2 linked regions of the Homo sapiens genome follow. The protein of the gene in region 1 interacts with the protein of each later gene in a biochemical or structural test. Each region holds a gene or a part of one and is shown in the gene's direction. Other genes may lie near its edges.

Region 1 (3,828 bases):
GAGTACATTAGTGGGCTTGCCATAGAAAATGGCTTCTATACCTTTGGTTACCAACTCTGCCTTTTACTTCCTGCATATTTGTATATATTTTTACTTATTCAGAAGTTTTGTACATTTTAATTTTTATTGGGAAACAGGGTTATATATATTTTTTCCTTGTGGAGACAGGCTCTTGCTGTGTTGCCCTGGCTGGTCTTAAATGCCTCACCTCAAGCGATTTTGCCTTGGCCTCCCAAAGTGCTGAGTGTATGGGTGTGAGCCACCACACCTGTCTAGAGTTATAATTTCAGTCTTGGAATTATTTTCTAAAGAGGGTACAGAAGAGCATAACAGGGATAAATAATGTAATAGGCAACACTGATTGATTATTCAGGCATTGTTTTAAATTCTGTGTGTATTATTAGCTCATTTAATTTACTTAGAGACAGGTAGCATCAACATTTTAACAAGGAAAAAAAATAGGTGTGGAGTGGTTAGATAACCCGTCCGTGGTTACGTACGTGAGCAGTGATAACTTATGATGAGATAATTTTTATCCTGGTTTTGAAAGAATGTTGACTTACACTGTTCTGCTATAAATCAGCATGAATATTAGTTCATTTTCTGTTGCTTAGAATACCTGAAACTGAGTAATTTATTTAAAAAAAAAGAATTTATTTCTTGCAGTTATAGAGGCTGAGAAATCCAAGATCGAGGGGACCCATGTGGTGAGAACCTTACTTGTGGAGACTCTGAAGGTTCCCAAGGCAGTACAGGGTATCACATGGGGAGGGGGCTGAGTGTGCTAACTGGGTAGCTTGGCTCTCCAGCTCCCCTGGTGGGAAACTGGGTAATTTATAAAGAAATACATTAATCCATGAATGGATTAATTCGTTTGTGAGGGTGGAGCCCTCATGATCCAATCACTTCTTAAAGACCCCCATCTCTCAGTGCTGCCACATAGGGGATTAAATTTCAACTTGAGTTTTAGAGGGGACAAATACTCAAACCATAGCAGCATGAAATTCAAAAGCACTCCACCTTGTATCCCACTGTGCTCTAGGGAAAAGCTGTATAGCAGTTATGGTCATGAAGTCTTCTTCCAGCATAGAATTTGTTTACATACACAGTCATGCATGGTTAATGATGGGGATGTGTTCTGGGGGAAATGCATCATTAAGCCATTTCATCCTTTTGTGAATGTCATAGAATGTATTTACACAAACCTAGATGGTACGGCCTAGTACATACCTGGGTTATATGGTATAGCCTGTTTGTTGTTCCTAGGCTACAAACCTGTATAGCATGTTGCTATGTTGAATACTGTAGGCAGTTTTAACTTTTTTAAAAATAAGTTGGAGTGTACTCTAACCACAAAAAGCATAGTATAGTAAATACATAAACCAATAAATCATTTATTGTCCTTATCAAGTATTATGTACTGTAAATAATTGTAAGTGCCATACTTTTATATGACTCTGCAGTAGGTTTGTTTATACCAGCATCACCACAAACATGAATAATGAATTGAGCTGTGACATTACTAGGCAATAGGAATGTTTCAGCTCCATTATAATCTTGTGGGATCACTGTTGTATATGCAGTCCTGTGTTGACTGAAACGTTATGTGACTGCAGTTGGGTAATGGTTTCTTAGCCTTATGTCAGCTCTATGTATCCAATTAGTTCAGTCAGTTGCCTCCCCTCTTCAGTGGAAGATTTTGTTTTTAGTTCAGTTTAGGAAGGAAGATTTCCTTTCAGGAGGCCAGGTGTGGTGGCTCACACCTGTAATCAATCACAGCACTTTGTGAGGCCAAGGCGGGAGCCCAGAATTTCCAGACCAGTCTAGGCGACATAGTGAGACACCCTGTCTTTACAAAAAAAATTAAAACAATATAGCTGAGTGTGGTGGAGAATGCATACCTGTAGTCCCAGCTACTCAGGAGGCTGAGGTGAGAGGATCACTTGAGCCTGTGAGGTCAAGGCTGCAGTGAGCTGTGATCACGCCACTGCACTATAGCCTGGGCAATAGAGCAAAGCCTTGTCTCCAAAAAAAAAAAAAAAATGCCTTCAAGCATGTTTTTAGGGTCAGTTATGTCTTTTGAGATCTTATACACACCATATATGTATGAACCTTTTATTATAAAGTGACCTTTTTATCTTAATGTTTTTCCTTGAAGTCTATTTTTTCCTGACATTAATACGTGATACCAACTCTGATTAGTGTTTTATTCTGAAACTGTCTTTTACATTACAGATTTTTTTTTAAGGAGGTATGTTGAAGTGCAGTGGCACGATCATAGCTCACTGTAACCTCAAACTCCTGGGTTCAAGTGATCTTCCTGCCTCAGTCTCCCGAGTAGCTAGGACTACAGCAGGCATGTTAATTTTTTGTAGAGATGATCTGTGTTGCCCAGGCTGGCCTTGAACTCCTGGCCTCAAGCGATCCTCCTGCCCCAGCCTTCCAAAGTGCTGAGACTATAGACGTGAGCTACCGCACATGGCCTCACCTTCATTCTTAAAAGATGTTTTGGTTGGGGATAGTATTTTAAGAGCCTTAGTTATTTTCAACATATTGAGGATTCTGTTGTCTTTTAGTGTCTTATTGAAGAGAAGACAGCTGTCAGTCTTTTTGTGCCTTTGAAGTTAATCTACCTTTTTTGTGTGTGCTTTTGAGATGAATTTGTTTTTGCTATCTTGCCTTTTTACTGATGTATCCGGAGCTGGATAAATATATGTGTGTGTGTGTGTGTGTATATATATATATGGATTCTTTATTTTATGGTTTTGATTTGTAGGGCTACTTGAATCTGTGGATTGGTGTCTTTCATCACTTAAGGAAATGGAAAATTATTGCGTATTAACTTCTTCAAATATTCTGTCCTCCTGCTCCCAGAACTTGTATGAAGTCTTTATTAGGCTTCATTGGATCTTAACATGTCTTTTCATTTCAGTATTTTCAGTCCTTTAGATTCTGTGGCTCTGCCATATTTTCAAAGTTTTCTTCTAGGCTTCATTTCAGCTCACTTAATTCTCTCTTCAGCTGTGTATCTTACTCTTAAGCCAGCCCATTTAGTTTGATTCATTAGTTTTATTTCTAGAAGTTCTAGTTTTCCAAATTTTGTTATATCACCTTTAATAGATGACTTCCTTGCAGACAGTGTGTTTTCAAACTTAGATCAAAGACAACCAGGCTTACTATGTCTGTAGGTATGTATTTGTTTATAGTCTGACAATTTTTAAGTCTTTGTGTAGGATTGATTTCTGTTATATTTTCTGTTTTTCCTGTTGGCTGTGAAAATTACTTGTATGAATTTTTTAAGGTCTAGAAGGAAGCTTTCATTTAATTTTGATATACAGGTGTCTGAATATACCAGGGACAGATCATTTTAAGTACATAGCTTGGGGTTTGGAGGGCAATACAGATGAGGTAAATTTGGGCTGTTTGTCCAGGAGAATGAATTTATTCTTGAGGATATAGCATTTTGGGGTTCCTGCTTAATTTGGGAGGGTTACCATAAAGATAGCCACCGTGGACAGGCCCAGAATTTTAACTTTGGTTAAAACCAAAGTTCACGTTGCTGATAATTGGCAGTTGACCTCAGTGCAAAAGTGCCTTCCTTCTGCTCCTGTTTTGCCCTCAGTTTTGGGCTGGTGATTCCTTACTATCTTGTTAGCATTTCAGTGCTTTTAAGATTTTTAACAAAATGTTTTTGTTAAAAAACATCTGTACTTTTAATTCTTTTCCTTTTTTTTTTTTTTTTTTTTTGAGACAGGGTCTTGCTCTTACCCAAGCTGGAGTGCAGCGGTGTGATCTCGGCTCACTGCAGCCTCCTCCTCTGGGTTCAAG
Region 2 (3,828 bases), on another chromosome or scaffold:
AATCGATGTGTACTACCTGAACATTAGTAGGCAGTTACTTTACATGCTATATGCTACATTAATCTGATTTTCCAACCACAGGAGATTAAAGTAACATCATAAGGGAGAGGGACAAGCGTGTGGCTAGAGACAGACATTCTAGAAGTATGAAAGCTGATAGCTTATGTCAAGGGAGAAAAGTTAGGAGATGTAGACTCAACAATTGCTCAAGACCATGGAGTATATAGATAGCCCTGCTTAGTGATCCCTTAGCAGTCACTGTGTTCACAATGTGATGGCCTTGAGTTACCAAAGATTGCTGCTTATGGTACTCAGTTTAAGAAGGCAGGTTTATGTGTAGCATTTCAGAAAGACTTTTATTTAGCATGGTTAATTTTTTTGTTAATTTCATATTTTGAAGTAATTTCAAACTTAAATCAGTTGGGTCTCAAAAAAAAATCAGTTGGAATAATACGAAGAACTCTCCTATATCCTTTATCTAAGTTATTAACATTTTTCAGCTTTTGCTTTATCATTCACACACACACCCATCTATGCATACATTTTTTTTTTGGTAGGAATGCCACAGAGGTGATACCGTATCTTACTCAGTGCATCTATCAGGAGACACATGCTGGTTTGACCTATTACAAGTTGATTTTTAAGATCACTTGGTTAAGGTGGAGTCTGCCAGGTTTCTCAATGCTAAGGTTAATATTTTTACCTTTGTAATTAATTTGTGCTTTCAAGGAATATGCTTTGAGACTGTGTAAATATCCTGTTTCTCATCAAACTTTTATCCACTAGTTTTAATATCTATTGATGATTCTTTCCTCAGTCAGTTATTACTACAATGGTTGCCAAATGGTGATTAACATTCTATTGTAAGGAAGGTTTTCCTTCTCTCTTATTTATTTATTAATTTATTTTTAGATCAGTGTGGACTAATGGATTCTTTTTTTTTCCATGACTGTAATCCATTAGTAGGGGTATTATGATGCTCGTATTGTCTTAGATTTGCCTCATGGGTGGGAGCTCCTTCAAGCTGGCTCCTTTGTCCCTCTGGTATGTCCCCACCATTCTTTGAGCACCTCCTTTCTTCTTGGCATACTAATATATGCTGAGCTCAATTTGTATTCTGTGCCAGCCCTGGAATCAGCCATTTCTTCAAGGAACCCTGGAGAATGGTATTTAGGAACTAGGATCCGGGTTCTCAGAGTGTTCATTGCTGCTATTATGTCATTGCTTTCGTAGCCAATAGTATCAGGAAATAGATGTATGTATGTGTGTGTATGTGTTTGTTGTGTACATACATATACACATACATACGTGCATATATATGCACAACAAATTGCACAGATACACCTGTCTCTATGTCTGTGAAAACCATGAATTTGGCTTCCAGCAAAGGCAGATTAACATTTACCCTTCCATGTGAAACAATGAAAACAATGACAAAACATATGAAGCAATGGTTTTCAGACACCAAAGGGCAGTGATCTCTTGAGAGATGGGAAACAAATGAACTGAGCTCTCCAGTTGCCCTGCCCTACTGCCTTGAGAGAATTTTCGTGCTGTAACAGAAAGAGGGAGAACCCAGATGGGAGTCCAGGCAGACCCTCTGTTGAAAAGGCAGAGCTGAGCATCAGGGGAGGCCAGGGTGGCTGGCATTCACATGCAAGAGACGATAGCGGAGACAGCTCTGCACAGGGAGAGAACCCCACAGGTCTGCAGAGTCTCCACTGGCACTCAGCTGAATACTGACCAGCACATTGTGCAAGAAAACTACTTAAGGTCAGTGAAAAGGCCTTTCCTCTTTAACTTTTCGAATTAGAGGAAACATGTCTGGTGCTCACCCATGGCCAGGGATAGTGCCTGTTCCCACCAGCTAAGACTGGAAAAATATTTCATGGGGCATTGGGTATGATACAGAGTAGGGGGTCTTGCCTCTGTAGTAGGGAATGATCAGCCTTAGAGTGAGCACTGCTTCAGCCCTACCTGAGTGTTTACAGGAATATACAAATACCCAACATCCAACAAGATGAAATTCACAATGTCTGGAACCCAATAAAAAATTACTGGCTGGGTGTGGTGGCTCAGCCTGTAATCCCAGTGCTTTGAGAGGCTGAGGTGGGTTGATTGCTTGAGCCTAGGAGTTCAAAACCAGCCTGGGCAACATAGTGAGATCCTATCTCTACAAAAAATAAAAAAAAAAATAGCCGGGTGTGGTAGCATACACCTGTGGTCCCAGCTACTTGCGAGGCTGAGCTGGGAGGATTGCTCGAGCCTGGGAGGTTGAGGCTGTGGTGAGCTGTGATCATGCCACTGCACTCCAGCCTGGGCAGCAGAGCGAGACCCCATGTCAAAAAATAATAAAATGTATAACCCAATTTTTTAAATGGACAAATAATTTGAACAGACTTCACCAAGAAAGATATGTAGATGGCAAATAAATATATGAAACTTGTTAATATTATTAGTTATTAGGGAAATGCCAATTAGAACCATAACGAGATACCACTATACACCCTCTAGAATGGCTAAAATGAAAGAAGACTGACCATACTAAGTGTTGGTAAAGATGTGAAGCAGTTGGGTCTCATACACGCCTGGTGGGAATGTAAAATGGCACAATCACTTTGGAAAACAGTTTGGCAGTTGCATGCGCTTTCCTTGTGATATAGCTTTTTCAGTCCTGGGTGTGTATTTGCCCAAGAGAAATGGAAAAATATGTCCATACGAAGGCTTGTACATGAATATTCGTAGCAGCTTTATTAGTAATAGCCAAAAATGTAGAAATCAAATGTCTACCAACAAGTAAATAGTTAAACTAACCATGGCATATCCATATGATCAAATACTAGTCGACAGGTGGGGCTTGGCTCACGCCTGTAATCCCAGCACTTTGGGAGGCCGAGGTGGGTGAATCACCTGAGGTCAGGAGTTCGAGACCAACCTGGACAACATGGTGAAACTCCATCTCTACAAAAATACAAAAATTAGGCATGATGGTGGGTGTCTGGAATCCCAGCTACTTGGGAAGCTGAGCGGGAGAATCGCTTGAACCTGGGAAGTGGAGGTTGCAGTGAGCCGAGATCACACCATTGTACTCCTGCCTGTGCGACAGAGCAAGACTCCGTCTCAAAAAATATATATACTAATCAACAATAAAAGGAAGTAGAGTATTGATACATGCTACAGCATGGATGACTTTCGGACTAGTAAGATTAGTACATACTCTGATGCCGTTTGCATAAAATTCTAGAAAACACACAGTCATGACAGAAATTGGATTGGTTGTCTGGGCATGGGGTATTTGACGGTGGGATTACAAAGGGACATGAGTTTTGCAGGTGACGGCTATGTTCATTGTCTTGATTGTAGTGATAGTTTCATGGTATGTACATAATGTCACAACTTACCAAATACTGTACTTTAGCAGTTATTGCATATCAGTTACACTCTAATAAGCTCCAAAAAGCAAAATAAGATGAGGGAATACTGTTGTCTCCAATTTCATTTCAGCACCCTAGGGCCCTTTCCATGTTTGTAGCTTCCTTCTTCAAGACCTTCATTCACAACGTACTGAGTTACTTGTCAATCCTAGGATACATGGTAGCTTTTTACAATTTCTGACCTGAACTATGGCAAGAAACAGTTATACTAACTAGAATTCAATATTTGTTTTTATTTATACTAACTAAAGTTCAATATTTGTTTTTATTTCTTTTTGTCTTTAGTCTAAGTTTTTGGTCAAAACACTACTTGAGTCAAAAATAACTTAGTTCTTTTTTCTCACCCTTCATCATATTTTCAGTGTGTGCTATCAGTTTAAAATACAGTTAGGTT

Evidence for each region.
Region 2: the proteins of NAP1L1 (region 1) and ERCC6 form a complex in vitro, tested with the Homo sapiens proteins (one large-scale study listed by BioGRID).

What each region holds. Positions count from the first base shown.
Region 1 is NC_000012.12:76,077,900-76,081,727, reverse strand, and holds part of NAP1L1 (nucleosome assembly protein 1-like 1), read left to right. Parts: intron 1-3,828. UniProt on the Homo sapiens protein: Histone chaperone that plays a role in the nuclear import of H2A-H2B and nucleosome assembly.
Region 2 is NC_000010.11:49,466,099-49,469,926, reverse strand, and holds part of ERCC6 (DNA excision repair protein ERCC-6), read left to right. Parts: intron 1-3,828. UniProt on the Homo sapiens protein: Involved in repair of DNA damage following UV irradiation, acting either in the absence of ERCC6 or synergistically with ERCC6. Involved in the regulation of gene expression.